2 separate regions of the Homo sapiens genome follow, and region 2 is linked to region 1. The links come from fine-mapping of genetic effects on gene expression. Tissue or cell type: unexposed skin. Region 1 holds a variant in brackets; the other region holds the start of a gene. All regions are shown on one strand. Distances are from middle to middle.

What was found. PIP is the estimated chance that this variant, and not a neighbour inherited with it, causes the effect.
Region 2: it holds the start of SUFU, and the variant in region 1 is fine-mapped to the expression of SUFU in unexposed skin (GTEx, PIP 0.96).

The regions. Positions count from the first base shown.
Region 1 is chr10:102,642,850-102,650,849 of GRCh38, reverse strand. It overlaps TRIM8 (tripartite motif containing 8), which reads right to left and starts at 6,371. Exons shown (of 6, transcript NM_030912.3): 1 at 5,663-6,371. The coding sequence starts at 6,232. It overlaps TRIM8-DT (TRIM8 divergent transcript), which reads left to right and starts at 7,661. Exons shown (of 1, transcript NR_186489.1): 1 at 7,661-8,000. LOC105378460 (a long non-coding RNA gene) reads left to right here. Exons shown (of 3, transcript XR_007062272.1): 3 at 1-694. RefSeq lists enhancers at 1,494-1,553, 1,654-1,703, 1,944-1,993, 2,004-2,063, 1,321-2,288 and 4 more and silencers at 4,720-4,936, 6,222-7,201, 7,282-7,381, 7,652-7,711. The variant C/T (reference allele first, on the strand shown) is at 4,757.
Region 2 is chr10:102,499,354-102,507,486 of GRCh38, reverse strand. It overlaps SUFU (SUFU negative regulator of hedgehog signaling), which reads right to left and starts at 3,515. Exons shown (of 12, transcript NM_016169.4): 1 at 3,153-3,515. The coding sequence starts at 3,334. ACTR1A (actin related protein 1A) reads left to right here and starts at 4,775. Exons shown (of 11, transcript NM_005736.4): 1 at 4,775-4,887. The coding sequence starts at 4,840. RefSeq lists enhancers at 1,828-2,328, 4,797-4,896, 6,291-6,791 and silencers at 2,621-2,915, 3,230-3,699, 4,377-4,446.

The DNA.
Region 1 (8,000 bases):
CAGAGGAAGCAAGGCCCAGACCCCCCACCACCAGCAGCCTCCTTTCCATCCCAACCCCCACCTGCCTCCCCAGGGAATGGCTAAGAGCCAAGGCCCCACTTCCCACCTGGGAAAAACCCATAGCTGAGATCCGACCAGATTTCCCAGCTCAGTTCAGAGCAAGTACTCTCTGCGCAGGCAGGTGGGCTGGAGGCACCTTACACATGCCACCGCCCCATCCCCCCACAGCAGTGCATGGCCTGGACTGCGTACACTGGAGCATGCAGGAGCAGAGCAGAGTGGAACGTGGCCTGGGCTAGAAGCTCTGGAGGCCCCAGGCCACCAGGGAGACTGGGACTAGGTGGGGCCCAGGGAGGACCTTCACACCCCCAGCCCTGCCTGTCGGGCCTCAGGCCTTTGGTGATCTGCCCGGGGCCTATGAGGACAAAAGCATGAAGAATCAGGAGCCGCCATTCCCACCCTCCACCACCTGGGCCCCCACTCCTCAGCTTTGCCGCTGCTTCCTCTGACTCCCCTCCCGGCCTGGAGCAGCGAACCCTGAGCCCCTACATTCCTGCCCCAGGAAAGCCTCATGTCCCTCTGGAGACTGACTGGCCAGGCCAGCTGCCATTTTTGATGCCAGACTAGACTGGGCAGACGGGTGAGGCTTGGGGACTCTGGGCTGTATAAAAGTTAATAAATAATAATAATAAAACCCTCAAGTCAACCTTGAAGAGAAACAAGGTCAGGAGGAAACAGGGCCCCAGGGACTGGGACAGAGGCAGTCCCTAGGTTTTCAGACAAGACCATGGCTAGCTCCAGAAGCCCCTGTGGTGGTGGGAGGGGCAAGAAGAGGGGGCTGGGCAGCCTCTTCCTGCTTAGGTCCCTGCCCGGCCAGCTCCAGTTCTGGCTCCAGCCCCCTTCTCAGAGCCACCCCATCCTAACCCTCCCCTACTCCTCCCCCTGGTCCCTGTCCCCATCTCTCCCTGGGTCTCTGCGCTCATAGCACTCTCCCCTTTCCTCAGAAAAGCTTCTGCCTGCCCTAAACCCCCTTTCCATGCCTCAAGCCACTGCCTTGGGCTATCATGTGAACTGAACCCCAGGCTGGGGAAACCACAAGCTGCAGAGGGAAGGGGCTCCAGGGCAGGCGCCAGGGCAAGGAGAGAGGCAGCACCTCAGATGCGAGCCCGGCAGACCCCAGAGAGGGCTTCCCAGCTGCAGAGTGGAATTAGCTTTTGCCATGCAGAGAGCAGCGCTCTGGGGCAGCAGAACAAAGAGGCGAGAGAGAAAGCCCCCCTTTGTCTGGCTTTGAATGCCAGGCCAGCCGGGAAAGGAAGGCTTTCCCAGAGCCAGGGAGGAGGCCAGCCAGGCCAGCCTGCTCGGCCCGGGGCAGGGGCCCAAGCCGGGCTTGCTCCGCCTCGCCAGACTGCACCCAACACAACAGCGCAGGACCCTTTCAGCTCCTGCCTCCAATACCCGCCACAGGCTCACCCCAAGGGGAAGCCCATCTTTCCCTCCTTTCCCCAACAACCCCACCACAGGGGGAAGTCCCAGGACCCCTGACAAACTCACAGCCACCAAGCAAGGATCACCTGAGCGGGCACTCACACAGCAGCACAGTAGTGCTGCCAACTGTCAGGAAGGCACACTCAACTTCAACTCGCAGGCGCTCAGCAAGCCCGGCAGGCAGACACGGCTGCGCAACTAGGGACTGAAGTCAGGCAGGCTGCGCCTTCTCAGAGACACCCATGTGAGATGCAAAAAGATCAGTCACATCCAAGATACACGACCCAGACGTGCTGGCTACACATGCACGCACACACACACACACACACACCTGCAGACAGACACAGATGTGCAGCCACCCAGGGCCGCAGAAGGCAGAGTAATAATAGTGTGTGCATGACAGGTGCCTGGCCATGTCAGCAGGATCCTGGGGTAGGGGTGGGCAGCTGGGCCTCTGCCTGAGGCTCCCTTTCACGGGCAACGGAGAAAGCCAAGCCAGGGCCTCCTTCCACGAAGACTCGGGGGTGGCCAAAGAAGGGGCCACATGACCGTCACACCACAAACACACGTGCGTGCACACAAACACACACACCCCTGCAGGAGTATGGTCTGCTGTAGGGAGAGGGAGCAGTGAGGTTTGCACTGCTGGAGTCAGGCTGCAGCCCCAGCCTCAGCACCAGCCCCAGTAGAGCCAGCCCTCACTCTCACTGCGTACTCAGAGACAGATAAATGGAGAGGAAACCCAGGATTCCCTCCAGGGTCTCAGGGTGACCCCTCCAGCCACCGGCAATGTGCACAGGATACCCTCACTCCAAGCAGGGGCAAACCCCACACTGGCCCAAGCAGTGGGATCTCCTCCCCCAGAGAACCTCTTCTTGACTCTGAACCTCTGAAAATGCAAGGAACAGGGCCCTAGCAACATGTCTGGCCTTGCTCTGGGACACCAGGGACGATGCAGAAACACAACCGTAACTGCACAAGACTCAAGCAGATACACCTGCATAGACACATACGCACCACATACCTGCAGGCCCCTCACACATGCAACCGGGCCTGCTCTTGGGTCTTCTTTCCATGTCATGGGGGGTCATGAGATAAGGATGCCCCCCAGCTCCCACCAGTCCTTCAATGCTTAGATGAACCCCTGAACCTGGGGGCTAGGAGGGGTCTGACCACTCAGGACTGCCAGGCCTGAGCCCACCTGGATGTCCAAATCTTGGGCCCTTAGCTTCCCCACAGCCTCATGGGAGAGCACATTTAGGATCTAGGCACATCCTAGACAATGGTCTCGGGATCATCCAGTGAGTATCCAGGCCTCGGCAATGTGGCCGACACACTGGCTTCCCAAGGGAAGATTAGGGCAACAACCTGCTTGGGCCTGATTCTGAGAGTCCCCCTTGTAGTTCCCCAGGATGGATGGAGGACCTGTTTGCTCTCCTGCTGGGTCCCTGCTCTAGGCTATGGCCCATGTGCACCTGTGGATGCTGTAAGTATATGAGGGTGAGGCCACCAGGGAGGGGTTAATCAGAGTTTCCTATTTCTAGCCAGTTGACAGGCATGTCAGCAATCCCCCTGGGAGGGCAGAAGAGGACGCACAAGAAGCAGAGCCTAGATTTTAAGGCAGGTGCCAGGTCTCTGTGCTTCTGCCCCTGTATCCTGGGGAATTCTGTGGCCCTCGCCCACAACACCAGCAAAGGCCCTTTAAGGCAGACTCCCTCCGGGAAGAGAAAAGGGGCCAAGGAAGAGCGCTCCACCCACTCCCCCTGTTTGGCCTACAGAGAGTGCAGAGGGTTCTTCCATTTAGGTTCCTATGGTTCACCCCCTCCTCTCCCTCCTGGGAGGGCAGGCAGGGCCCCTATTCCTCCACATTCAATAAGTCAAACTCATACTTGAGTGACACTGGGCTACTGAAGGGTTTCCAACCCCAGTGGCCTGGGGCACCAGAAAGAATCAGGGGCCTGGGGAGGGGGAACCTGGAGAAGGATGAGGCTCAGGCTGCCACTGCAGGGCACAGCTGCTGAACGCACAGAATTGCACATCTGGCCCTGATGCAACCCACTACTTCTGAGCCTGCCCACACCAGGCACAAGAAAGCACGCGCATGCACGCGCACGCACACACACGCACACACGCACACACACACCCTGCGGAGTTGCCGACAAAGTTCAGTGCCTGCTTCCATCCAATCCACGAGTCTGGAAATGAGGGGCCTGCTGGGGGGCACCCCAGGGAATACTCTGCATGCACATGCCACCCACCCACCCCTGCCTGTGCCCTGAACTGTAGAGACAGGAGACAGGTGCATTGGAGGGCGAAGCACACAGTCTCAAAGACATTCAAAAACACAGACACCTAAAGCTATCCTCCTACACCAAGTCAGGTATAATGACGTTTTCTCCCCCACCCCAATTAAAGACATCCCTAGAACTCAGACCAGCTACAGCAGCACTGTGGGTGCGGGCAGGCATCCGCCCATCGCCCAGGTTGCTGCCCCTCCCCTGTTCCTTTCAGCCACATCTCCTTTCCCCTCCTCTCATTTTCCACTGCCAATCCCAGGACAGAACTGGACAGCCCTCCTTTCTCCTGCCTCTGCACTTTTCCCGGCCTCCTCCCCCAGCCCTTCCATCTTTATTAATAGCAGCAGCTTCCCAATACTGGGGAAAGTGTGGGCTGTGCCTGCCCTGAACGGGGATGGAGGACACAGGGGGTGGAGGACACACTTCCTTTAAGAAACCAGAGGCCTATCCTGGCACACAAACCCAGGGCTAGTCCATCCGATTGGAAACTAATTATACAGCAAATCGTATTTGCTGCCCCCGCCCCAGCCTGTGGTGGCCCTCCTGCCTTTTGTTGGTTGTATGTGTATGTTTTTTAATTGCTAAACAGTGACTCATTCTGACTGGTCCCCCCACACAGGAAACAGCCCCATCTCCAATCATGCCCTGAACAGAGCTTCCTCATAGCCAGCCTCCGCACTGGCCTCCACTAACCTCCAGGGATCCCCACCCAGAGACACTCCCAGTCCCACCAGAGTGCAGCCTAGCCCCCAGATATCACACCCAGGCCCCAGGCCCCAAGGTGGGGCTTCAGAGAGGACTCCTCGGTGTCAGGCCAACCCCTTCATTTTGGTATGACTCAACCCTGAAAGCCAGAGGACTGGGGAGGGACCTAGGAGGAGCCCCCTCCACTGAAGGGGACGGAAGTATTGCCTCAGTCCAGCTCCAAAACCAGGCCCAGAGGCCTGAGGGGGGAGGCGGTTTGACATTGGCCG[C/T]GGCCGCAGGGTGTATACAATGGGAGGGGACGCGGTTCCGTAATCACCCAGCCGGCAGCCCAGGGGAGCCAGCTGCCTGAAACCAGATTTCAAGGCGGCTCAACCTTAAACCCACAGGATTCTTTTTCCGTCTTCCACTTCCCCTCCCCAAATGTGGGAGGGCGGCGAGAGGGCTGTGCTAGGCGAAAGGGCCAGGATGATGAAGACAGATACTTGAAGGCTTGTTCATGCGGCCCGTGCGACACACAGGCACACAGGGCAGCGATTCTCACACAGGGAGAGCCGGCTCTCGGGAGGAATCCAAATAGCGGAGCCGCTGTCGGGGCCTCGCTGGCTGCCCAGGCCCTGTCCAGAGAGACGGCCGGAGTTCTGCTCTCCCTCTGGAAACTCCCCCCACTCCCCCCCCAGTGTGTTTCCAATAGCGCTGAAAACTAACATGGCTGCTTTTGTTTACTTCCTCATTGGTATGCCAGCATCATGGATCATGTCAGCCACAGCAGCGGCACCGGGACACTCATTACATAAACAGCAGCTGGAGAGGCAGGACCGGGGTCACTGCCTCGGTGACTTCCCGTAGGGCCTACAGCAACAAGACTGGGGGAGGGAGCTGCGCACCACAGAAAAGCAACACCCAGACTCTACCCCTGACGGTCCCACACCCCAATCCCATAAAGCACTCAGAAGACGGACCCTGTGCGCACAGGTGCGAGAATGTACCAAGTAGCGACCCGGGGCCCTTCTTCCCAGGACCCTGTCCCCAAACTTTCAGAGAAGAGTTTGGCCAGGGGCCACTGGCCTGATGTCACAAGAGTCAGCCTGTCGGGATGGGTGGTCCCGGGGCGGGAGAGAGGAAGGGACTGTGTGTCTGTGTGTGTGTGTGTGCGCGCGCGCGCGTAGGGTACTTGCCCGGATTTCATTCCTTCGGATCTCCACGTCGCACACCGAGTGTCCCTGATGCGCGCCGCTGTAGTAGCAGCAGTACTGGCACACGGCCACCTGCTCGGCCTCGCAGTGGTAGAGGCGGTAGGCGTTGTGCTGCGGGCAGCTCCAGGCCCGCACGTCGTCCGCCTCCACCAGGAGGTGCCCGCGGGCGGTGGAGGGCTGCTGCAGGTGCGTCTGCACGTGGGACTGGCAGCAGGGCGCCTCGCAGCGCAGGCAGACCTTCTGCGCGGGCAGCGGGGGGCCGCGGCGGCAGAACACGCAGTGCAGCGCCGCCGGCGGCTTCTCCACGTGCAGGGCATTGAACTTCTCCACGATGTTGGTGAGCTTCAGGTTCTTCTCCAGGCCCGGCTTCTGGTTGTAGGCCTGGTTGCACTCTGGGCAGCGTACGAGGCCGCTGTCCTTGGCCCACGCCTCGCCGATGCAGCCCCGGCAGAAGTTGTGTTTGCACGGCAGCTGCACTGGCTCCACGAAAACGTGCAGGCAGATAGGGCAGATGAGCTCCTCCTCGAAGCAGTTCTTCCAATTCTCCGCCATGGCGGCCGCGGGCAGGGGGCCGGGGCAGGCCTCCCCGACTCCCCAGCCCCGGGGGTCCGTCCGGAGCCGCTGTAGGCCCACCGAGCCCCGAGCTCCGGCCCCAGCCGGCCCCGACGGTCGCTCAGTCAGCAGCGCCTTCCGCGTGCCCGCCCCCCGGAGGAGGGAGCCGCGGTCCTCACGCCGCGCGCGCAGCGGGCTGCGTCTCCTCCTCCTCCCGAGCGCCTAGCGGGAGGCGGCGGACTGCGCCAGGGCCGCGGCCGGGACTCCAGCCTTGGAGGGGAGCGCCGGGGTCCAAATTCCATATAAGAGGCCGCCTCCCCGTCGGCGCGGCTAGGGCAGTGGCGGCCCGCGGCCTGCGCTCGTCCCCGCGGCTGACATTGGGGCGCGCCCCGCGGCAGACGGAGCTTGGGAGCAGCACACTTCTTCCGGCGGCGGCGGCAGCGGCGGCTCCTGCCTGGCTCGTCGGCGCCGCACCTCCCTCGCAGGGGCCGGAGCCCGGGGTCTGCGGGGCCAGGAGGCGAGGGCGGCCGCGCCGAGGGCTGCTAGATCCGGACGGGGCGGGAGGGGCAGGCCGGCGGTCCCCGGGCCACGGTGCAGGCGTCCCCCGGCTGGCTGGCCGGGCGCGGGCTGCGGGGCGCGGGCGGGCCGACTCCGGGGCGCTGCGTGCGCGCAGGGGCAGTCATTCAGATGAAATTCCAGTCCCCGGCCAGAGACACCAGCCCGCCTCTGCCTTCCTCCTCCCTTCACAAATAGAAACGGAAGGGGGAGGGAGAGAAGTGGAAAAAAAGGCAACCGGCGAGGGAGGGAGGGAGAAGCCCCGGCGGCGCTCCGGCCTGACCCCCGGGCGGCTACTTCTGCGCTCCCCCGAGGCCCGGCGCCCCCGCCGCGGAGAGACCCCGCGCGCCCGTCTCCGCGCTGGGCGGGCGCCCGGGCTCTGCCGAGGAAAACAAGGATTGATCAAACTAGAAAGGAATTTTTCTCAACTGCTAATGAACAGGAGGCTCGGCTCCCGGCCCTCCCCTCCCCTCCCCCGGCCCTCCCCCTTCGCCCCCCCGGCCCCCTCCTCCCCACTTTCTTTTCTTCTCGGCCTCTGCTGGGGCCTGGAAGGCTCGGGGCTGCGGTCGGAGCCAGCCTGCGGCGGCGGGGCCAGGCCGAGCCGCCACCCTCAGCGCCCAGCCATCTTGGGCTCCGCGGCGGCGGCCGGGGTCTGGGCGCGCTCGCTGAGGGCCCCGCGGCGTCCTCTCGCTCCTGATTCTTTTTTTTTTTTTTTTGGTGGGATTTTTTTTTTTCCAAGGGGAGGGCTGGCGGCCTCCAACAAATTAGGAGAGAGAGAGGGAGAAAATGCCAAGTCCCGATTTCTCTCCACCTCTGCTCCACCCACCCCGGTCCTGTCCAAAAAATAAAAGAAGATGAGAATTGGAAGAAGTCGGCAGAAAGGCGAGAGCCCGCGGTCCCCGGCTGCTGCCCAGGCGACGCGTCCGGGGCGGGCCCGCACCCGTTGCTCGGTCCGAGGTCCGTCTGTCTGCCCGCGGCTTCTCAAGGGAGGGGAGGGCGCTTCGGGCAGGGTCTCCGCAGCCGCTGTCGCCTCAGAGCTTTATCCTCAGATCAAAAAAGAAAAAACAGGAAGAAAAAAATCCCAACCCCAACACTCTCATCACAGCCACCTTCAGCCATCTTGCGCGTATTATTATTTCAGGAATAATCTGTTTAATAAAAATACCTGCGTATCCAGCCCCTCCCCCGCGTCCTGGGGTCCCCGCCCCCTTTT
Region 2 (8,133 bases), 140 kb after region 1:
TTCTACAACAGGTTGGATTTAGAAAAGTTTGTGGGGCAAGGGAAGAAAGAAAAGAGTAGAGATCCCTGGAAAGACCCCATTAGAGCTACAGAACTCCAGAGCAGATGAGAGCCACTACAGGCCCCATACCTGCTCCAGTTTCCTGCTGCAAATTTCCAAACCTGCCCCGCTACAGCCTAGGTCCATCCTGCACCAAGCTGCAAAACTGTGTTTACCATTCTCTGCTCCATCTGCAGCATCCCTGCAGCCCTCTTTCTCACCAAGTCTCCCACAAGGTGTCACATCAAGGAGAGAAGCTTAACCTTCAAACTCCAACTGCAAGGAACTACCAAGAGTCAGATAAAATTAACCCTGTCCCCAAGCACAGAGTATTCTGTTTACTTACTACTCAGAGGCCAGATGAGTATGTGGAAAAAAATCGCATTTTACACTTAGCAAATGATGTTATCCAAGGTCCCAGGGCATCCCTCAACTTAATTCCTTGAACACCCAACTTCTCTCTGCAGGGCAGTTGCAGGACTGAAGTGGGCCATGAGTACAGGTTCTGCCTCTCTGCTTTGATCCTTGCTCACCAAAGTCTCAGCTTTCAGTTAGAATGTCCCCACTACTCAGGGATCACCAGTCACAGAGCCACACTGCTATTGCAAAATGAATCCCAAGCTACCCTGGGCCACAGACAGACCCAGACAGCCTGGGTCAGTCATCCTGCTAGAAACCTCGTGGGATCCCAAATGTGAGGAATATAAATGAATTTCAGGATCTTATTTTTGCAAACCCCTCCACATCTTAGAAAGTACCAGTCACTGATGGCTGGTCGCACTGGCTCACGCCTGTAATCCTAGCACTTTGGGAGGCCGAGGTGGGTTGATCACTTGAGGTCAGGAGTTCGAGACCAGCCTGGCCAACATGGTGAAACTCTGCCTCTACTAAAAATACAAAAATTAGCTGGGCAAGGTGGCGTGTGCCTGTAATATCAGCTACTTGGGAGGCTGAGGCACGAGAATCGCTTGAAACCGGGAGACAGAGGTTGCAGTAAGCCAAGATCGTGCCACTGCACTCCAGCCTGGGTGACAGAGCAAAACTCTGTCTCAAAAAAAAAAGAAAGTACCAGTCACTGTGCTGTTTCTCTTTATACTTTTCTGCATCTAGGAAGGGCTTTCACAAAGTGCTGTATAATCCCTTTTCTTCATTATCACATGTTGGCCCATCTCTGAAGATATGGCTGTTAACAAGCTTGCAGCAGGAAGGAAAAAAAAATTGCCCTTAGTCCTTTGCACATGCTTTCATACCTTTTACATACAATTCTATCCTTTATGGCTACTTGGGTGACATAAAAATAGTTGCCTGAATCTGTGTAGGGATTTCTCCTCACACTCAAATGAGGCCTGAACAAACAGCGTGGCAGAGCCAGGCCCACTTCTTTTTTTTTTTTTTTTTTTTTTTTTTTCAAATAACAGAGTTAGGGTCTGGCTACGCTCCCCACACTGGTCTCGAACTCCTGGCCTCAAGGGATCCTCAAGGCCTCCCAAAGTGGTGGGAATACATGCATGAGCCACTGTGCCCAGCCCAGGCCCACTTTTCTCCTGACACATGACAACAAGTTCATCACAACACATAGTTAAATATAAAGGCACAATGAGAATGGGTCATTAAGCTAGCAAGAGCTGCTTTCCACTCAGAAGCGCTCTTCAACAACTCCTCTCAACCAGAGAACAGTTCGCCAGTGAGAGAGGACTGCGACACCAGTTCCACCTCCTCCCGTCTACTCTGACAGAGGAGGCTGTTCCCTACAATCCTCCCTAGACAGCAGGTGGCTGGTCCCCAGGCTCTCCACGCTGTTGGCCTCTTGGCATCCTCCCATTGATGCGGGCAGCTGGCCTCAGCCCTGCACAGCCTACTGACACCGATGTCCAGGGGAAGCAACAGGTTTTCACCAGGAGGAAGACTCAGTCCTAAAAGGAGAGGTAACCAGCAAAGATGTCCACTTGCCCCTTCAGGTCTACCCTTTGGCTACACCCCCAAGCAGCTGCAGAACAGTCTTTCAAGACTCATTGAAGATCATCTTACACAATGCCTGCATGAATGTGGTCCTGGACAGTTTCAACCAATATCTCAGTTTTTGGTCCAGCAAGACTTTGAGGACAGGTTCTTTTCCAGAGTCCCCAGAACATCTGTTCTGCCCAAATGCTGAAGGAAGAAACAGGCTGCAAACAGGAATGGGAAATTAGAAAAGACCATTCCTACCCTAAAGCTACTTGAGGGTTACTCTCAGCTCCCCGGAGAAACTGCAGGCCATGGCCGAGAAGCTCCTCTTAATGTCCCACTGCACAATTCCTCCCTGCTGGGGTCCCAGAGTCTCCACCATTTATTTCCAACTGGAGGTGGGAAGCTGTCGGCCCCTTCAATCCTAAGCCAAACCATGGTTCTCTCTACCTAATGCCCTAAAGCGAAGCAACTGCAGAGCTAGGAGGAAGCTCTGCACGGAGAAAGAGAACAGTGCAGAGTAAGCAAAAAGTTTATCAGGAAGAGCTGCTCCGTCAAACTTCAAAAGCAAAAGCTTTGCCCTGATACGACGTCTGAGCTAATCGGGAAGGTATCAAAAGGAGACCTCCTCCTCTCTCCACAAGCACCAGGCCCTCATCTTTGGCCCTCCTACCCACCACAGGAGAGCCCTGGGCCCCCCGAACCCCCCATTCTATGCAGTCTCGTGCCCTCTGAGCTTCTTCGGCTTCGCTCCTCCAAAGCCCTCTCAAATGCTCCCCAGGCCCCGCCTCGCCTCTCCCATCCCACTTCGGCCGCCCCCGCTTGGCTTCCCCTCGCCCACTAATGACCCCCTACAGGCGCCCCCTCTTTTCACCACGTTTACAGTTCCCTCGCTCCTGCCGTTCCCCCCTCTGCTCCTACACACACCCCCAGTCCTCACTCTATTCTCCTAATCCCGGTTAACCCCTCAGTACCCACGGGCTCCGTTAACCCCTTTGTCCCCATTCCCAACTTGAGCCTTAACTCCTTCCCTCGCAGCAAGAAGCCCTCCTTCTGAGTGCTTTAACCATTCTCTACCCCTCCTCCCACCTCCCACAAATTACTTCGCCCTCGGCGCTTTAACCCTTTCCAGCCCGCGCCTGTCCGTCTCCCCGCGGCCCAGAGCATACCAGTACTTGACGATAGCGGTAACCTGGAGCGGGTTCGGCTGGTCAGGGTAAAGGCGGCGGCACTCTCCGTAGATGGCGTGCAGTCCCGGGGGAAAGAGCGAAGCGAAGGCCGGGGGGGCAGTCGGGCCAGGGGCCGGGGGCGCGGTGGGGCCGGGGGCGCCGCTAGGCCGCAGCTCCGCCATCGGGGTGCGTAGGGCAGGCACTGGGGGAACTGGAGAGGGCAAACGACGGGGAGAGCACTGACGGGCCAGCGGGCGGACTCGGTGGGTGAGACTCCCCGAGGCGATGGGGGCTGCAGCGAGGTCTAGCTCCGCGCCTGCGCACGGCGCACTGTCCGCCCAGGCTGTCGCCGCCGCCGAGTCTGCCAGAGGGTGCCTCGGGGCGGCGGGGCGCTAAGGGGGGCGGGGCGCCGGCGCACCCTATCCAAGCACCCATTGGCTAATGTCTGTGCCAGTCACAGGCAGGGAAGGTGTGACTTGACAATAGGCCCCGCCTCCCCTCCCTGTGTTGGGAGTGTCCCAAGGCTCTTGGTCTCCCCCTAGTGTTAGGAGGAACCCAAGTTTAGAGATGCTGAGCACCCTCTGAGGTGCTAAGGTCCCACGAAAGCAGCGAGAAGTGCGCCAACAAAGGATTTGTTACTGTTTTGCTGACGCGCTGCTAACTAGGATTTAAACATAAATCTGACAATGGATTGATTCATTCATCCATGGGGCGTTAGTATTAATAGATGATAATAAATCTAATGTTTTCTAGGGCTATTGACAAAAAGGTCCCTGAAATTTCAAGGGGGCTGGGGGAGAACATAATCCAGAGAAAAAAATGCACTGGGCTCATTTGAAAGCAGTGACACATAACCTCTCTTCACCTCCATTTTCTCAACCATCAGTGTCAATTCTAGCTCGTTATGAAAATTAAAGAGATACTCGAGCAGTTTCTGAAACCCTTAGATGATGTTTTAATGACCAAAAGATTACCTATACCAGTAGTTCCAATTGCCAATCTTCGGATCAATGTTAGCCTGTTATGCAGAAAAAAAGAAAATGCAAAAGGCAACGACAATGTACAGGTTTTTAAACTTAAAGCTAATTTTATGCAATTTAAATTGTTTTCCTTTGTTGTAGGAATATGTCCTCTCGCGTACGTGTGTTAACATTTCCTTTTTGTTAGAGTGTGAGGTGCTAGGAGATGTTTATTAAAGTCTTACAGACCCAAATAAAAACATGAGAACCTTATATTGTCTAAGGGAACGTCGGGGGGAGTGGCAGGGCTGATCTGCAAAATCCAAACATCCATGAATTACGACCAATCCAAACCGAACTACAGACAAGTACTCGAGAAGACTACATACCTCAGCATGCACTGCGAACTCCTTCAAAGGGACTACAGATCCAGGCATGCAACATGACCATCAACCTGTGTCTCTGGCTGTTTAATCTAGGGAGACCACAAATCCCAGGGTACTGCGCATTGGAAATGCGACTCCCAATCTTAAACTAGGCGGGCAACAAAGCAAGCTAGATCGCTAACCCAGGCGCAAAGCTTGCTGGGGATTGTAGTTCTTCAGAGGCGAGGTCGGGCCGCTCCCTCGCCGCCCTGAACCGGCGGCTAGACTGCGCATGCGTGTCAGTGGCGCTAGCGGCGGACCCGGCTGGGCAGTTCCTTCCCCAGAAGGAGAGATTCCTCTGCCATGGAGTCCTACGATGTGATCGCCAACCAGCCTGTCGTGATCGACAACGTGAGTTGCGTCTTTCCTATCTATAAGGGGACTTGGGCTCTCCTCCTCGAAAGGATCGCTTCCCGGGGTTCAGCCTGAGCCGCCGGCTCTTTGTCACTGGCCCGGCCTGTCAGGCGCGTTCAGCCACCGCCGCCTCCTTCCTCCCCTTATCACATAGTCCGCAGGCAAGGCGGCCAGCCAGCAAAAGTGGGATGGAGAACTCTGGAGTGGATAAAGGAAAGAGTTATAGTCCAAGCCAGTCCTTGGGCCCTTGGCTCTAGGGGCCTTAACCGCTGTGTGAGATTCCCGTCGCCCGCCCTCTCCCCCATTTCCGATCGCTCTATTGGTTGCTCTGGCTGTCCATCTTAGCCAATGATACCGCCTCTTAGCCTTGCCGGATGAGGCTAGGCCTCTGCGGTGATTGGCTCACGCCCCTGCCATTCTTCCTTGCCGCCATATTGTTTTCCCTCTTGAAGGGGCGGGGCAGTGCTCCAGGGCTGTGGGGATTGGCTTCCGGGACTCTGGGTGGTGGGGCCTAGAGGCGAGTGCCCGCCCGCGGGTGGAGAACGGCTAAGTTTTCCTTCGGTCTCAGCCGGCGCTGCGGCTTGGTGGTGTGGATCTGGGTGGGGCCCGAGAATCTGGTGCCAGAAACCGCTGTAGGATGTCAGCTATTACTGTGATTATAAATTACAAAGTTGGTAAAGGTCGAGAAGAAAGGAGAGTGACAAAGGAAGCAGAGAGGTTGTCCTCCTCTTTGGAACGCCTAGTTCTTACGGGGAAAAAATTACCAAACTTAATATTTGCCTGGCGCTCTAGCGCTTCCAGGGCGTTTTCACATACATTCGAGTTGGATCCTCACAAAAACTGGACGCATAGTTTAAAAGGAACTTTGATCTTCGTGTTACCGATGAGAAAACTGAAGCGCGAAGACGTAACGTGAGCCCAAGGTCACATAGCAGAGGTGCCCTAAATCCAGTACTTTATCCGTCATCCCTTTTGCCAGCACCACCATGCAGAAGCATCAATATTGACCAATAGAAAGAATCTAAATACTGCTCTTATTTTGGGGGGAAAGGAGAAAATTGTAAAACGACTGCATTTCTGCCTTCGATTCAAAGCTTTGGTCCCACAGAGATTGATCCCTGTCTGTGTCCCTTGTAGGTCCCTCCATTGAGGCAAAACTACCAGTTCCCTCTGTTGTAAGCTGACTCTGTCAGATTCCCTTTGTTGATTCAGCTCTTGGGACCTTAGGCATATTACAATGTTCTCGTTTAAGCTTCAGCTCTGTTAGGTAGATAGGAATTACTATCCCCAGTGTATGCAGGGATGTTAAATAACAGATTTCAAACCATCCAGTTTAGGAATTGAGGAGCCAGTCATCAGACTAAGATCCAGTTCCAAGTTGCTTGCTTTTTCCAATATATTTTTGTTGTTGTTTTCATTAAATTTTCCTTCTCTCCATGGGTATTTTGTTTTTATTATTCCCCCTTAGAAAGGGGCAGGATTGAGCTCAATGAGACAGCTCATTTTTTTTTTCTTTTTTTTTTTTGGAGACAGGGTCTCGCTCTGTTGCTGAGTCTGAAATGCAGTGGCGCGATCACAGCTCACTGCAGCCTCAACCTCCTGGGCTCAAGTGATCCTCCCGCTTAAGCCTCCCGAGTAGCTGGGGCTGCAGGCACGCGCCACCACCCCTGGCTAATTTTTGTATTTTTTGTAGGAAGGGTTTCACCATGTTGTCCAGGCTGGTCTCAAACTCCTGGGCTGTTGCGATTCTCCTACCTTGGCCTCCCAAAGTGCTGGGATTATAGGCCTGAGCCACCGTGCCTGGCAGAGACGCCTCTTTTTTTGGTGTGGGGGGGTGGAGGGAACAGGATCTCGCTTTGTCACCCAGGCTGGAGTGCAATTGTGCGATCTCAGCTCACTGCAGCCTCCGCCTCCAGGTTCAAGAGATTCTCCAGCCTAGACTCCCAAGTAGCTGGGATTACAGATGTGCACCACCACGCCTGGCTAATTTTTGTTTGTTTGTTTGTTTGTTTGTTTGTTTGTTTGTTTTTGAGACGGAGTCTCACTGTCGCCCAGGCTGGAGTGCAGTGGCGCGATCTCGGCTCACTGCAAGCTCCGCCTCCCGGGTTCACGCCATTCTCCTGCCTCAGCCTCCCGAGTAGCTGGGACTACAGGCGCCCGTCACCTCGCCCGGCTAATTTTTTGTATTTTTAGTAGAGATGGGGTTTCACCGTGTTAGCCAGGATGGTCTCGATCTCCTGACCTCGTGATCCGCCCACCTCGGCCTCCCAAAGTGCTGGTATTACAGGCGTCAGCCACCGCGCCCGGCCTAATTTTTGTATTTTTAGTAGAGATGGGGTTTCACCATATTGGCCAGACTTGTCCTGAACTCCTGACCTCAAATGATCCACCCGCCTTGGCCTCCCAAAGTGCTGGGATTACAAGCATGAGCCACCACACCCAGCCCAGATACTTCATTTTTGAGAGGATCTTTTTGTCTCCCTCACTAGACTATTAAATCCTTGTGGAAAAAGATGATATTCTCCCACAGGTTTAGTGGTGTTGGGAAAAAAAATTTAAGAAAGATGATATTCCTTTAGTCTCACTTCACCCACTTCTCTCCACACACACACAGTATACCTAGGGTCTGGCACCTCTGTGTGCTCAATAAATGTTTTTTCATTGGATTGATGGGTGATTGGATGAATGACTGAATATCTCTATCAAAGTAACAAAGATATTCCTAAATAAAGAAAAGATGGGGAGTTTTCTCTAGTTAGTTACTGCAGATAATTGAGTAGGACTTTTTGTTCTTGATGTTGATTTTCAGAGAGCACTACGATTTCTGTCTTTAGCCAGGCTCTTTGTGCTTCTTCTGCCTTTTTCTTAGTTGTAAAAAGGAAAAATATATAGAAATTCAATTTCCTGTTTTCATCAGCAATGCAGAAGGAACAACCTGTCTATCCCACCAGCTCCTTTGCTTCTTGAATTGCTAGGCAGGAGTTCCATCTCCGGCCATTTTCTTTAATATCACTTACACTAATGCGTCTTAATTTTTTTCTTTCTCTTTCCTGGTAGTATGTTTCGAAATGCATTACAGCAGTGATGCATTTTTAGTTTCAAGATTTAAAGAATTGACTTGTCTTTTTTTTCCCCCTCTGGGAAAACATGTCCTTTATTATGCCAGTATTTCTGCCAAAAGGTGAAGTAGGAGAAACTTAAGTCATTTTCCTATTAGTATTTGCTGAAAATCTGCCACATTTT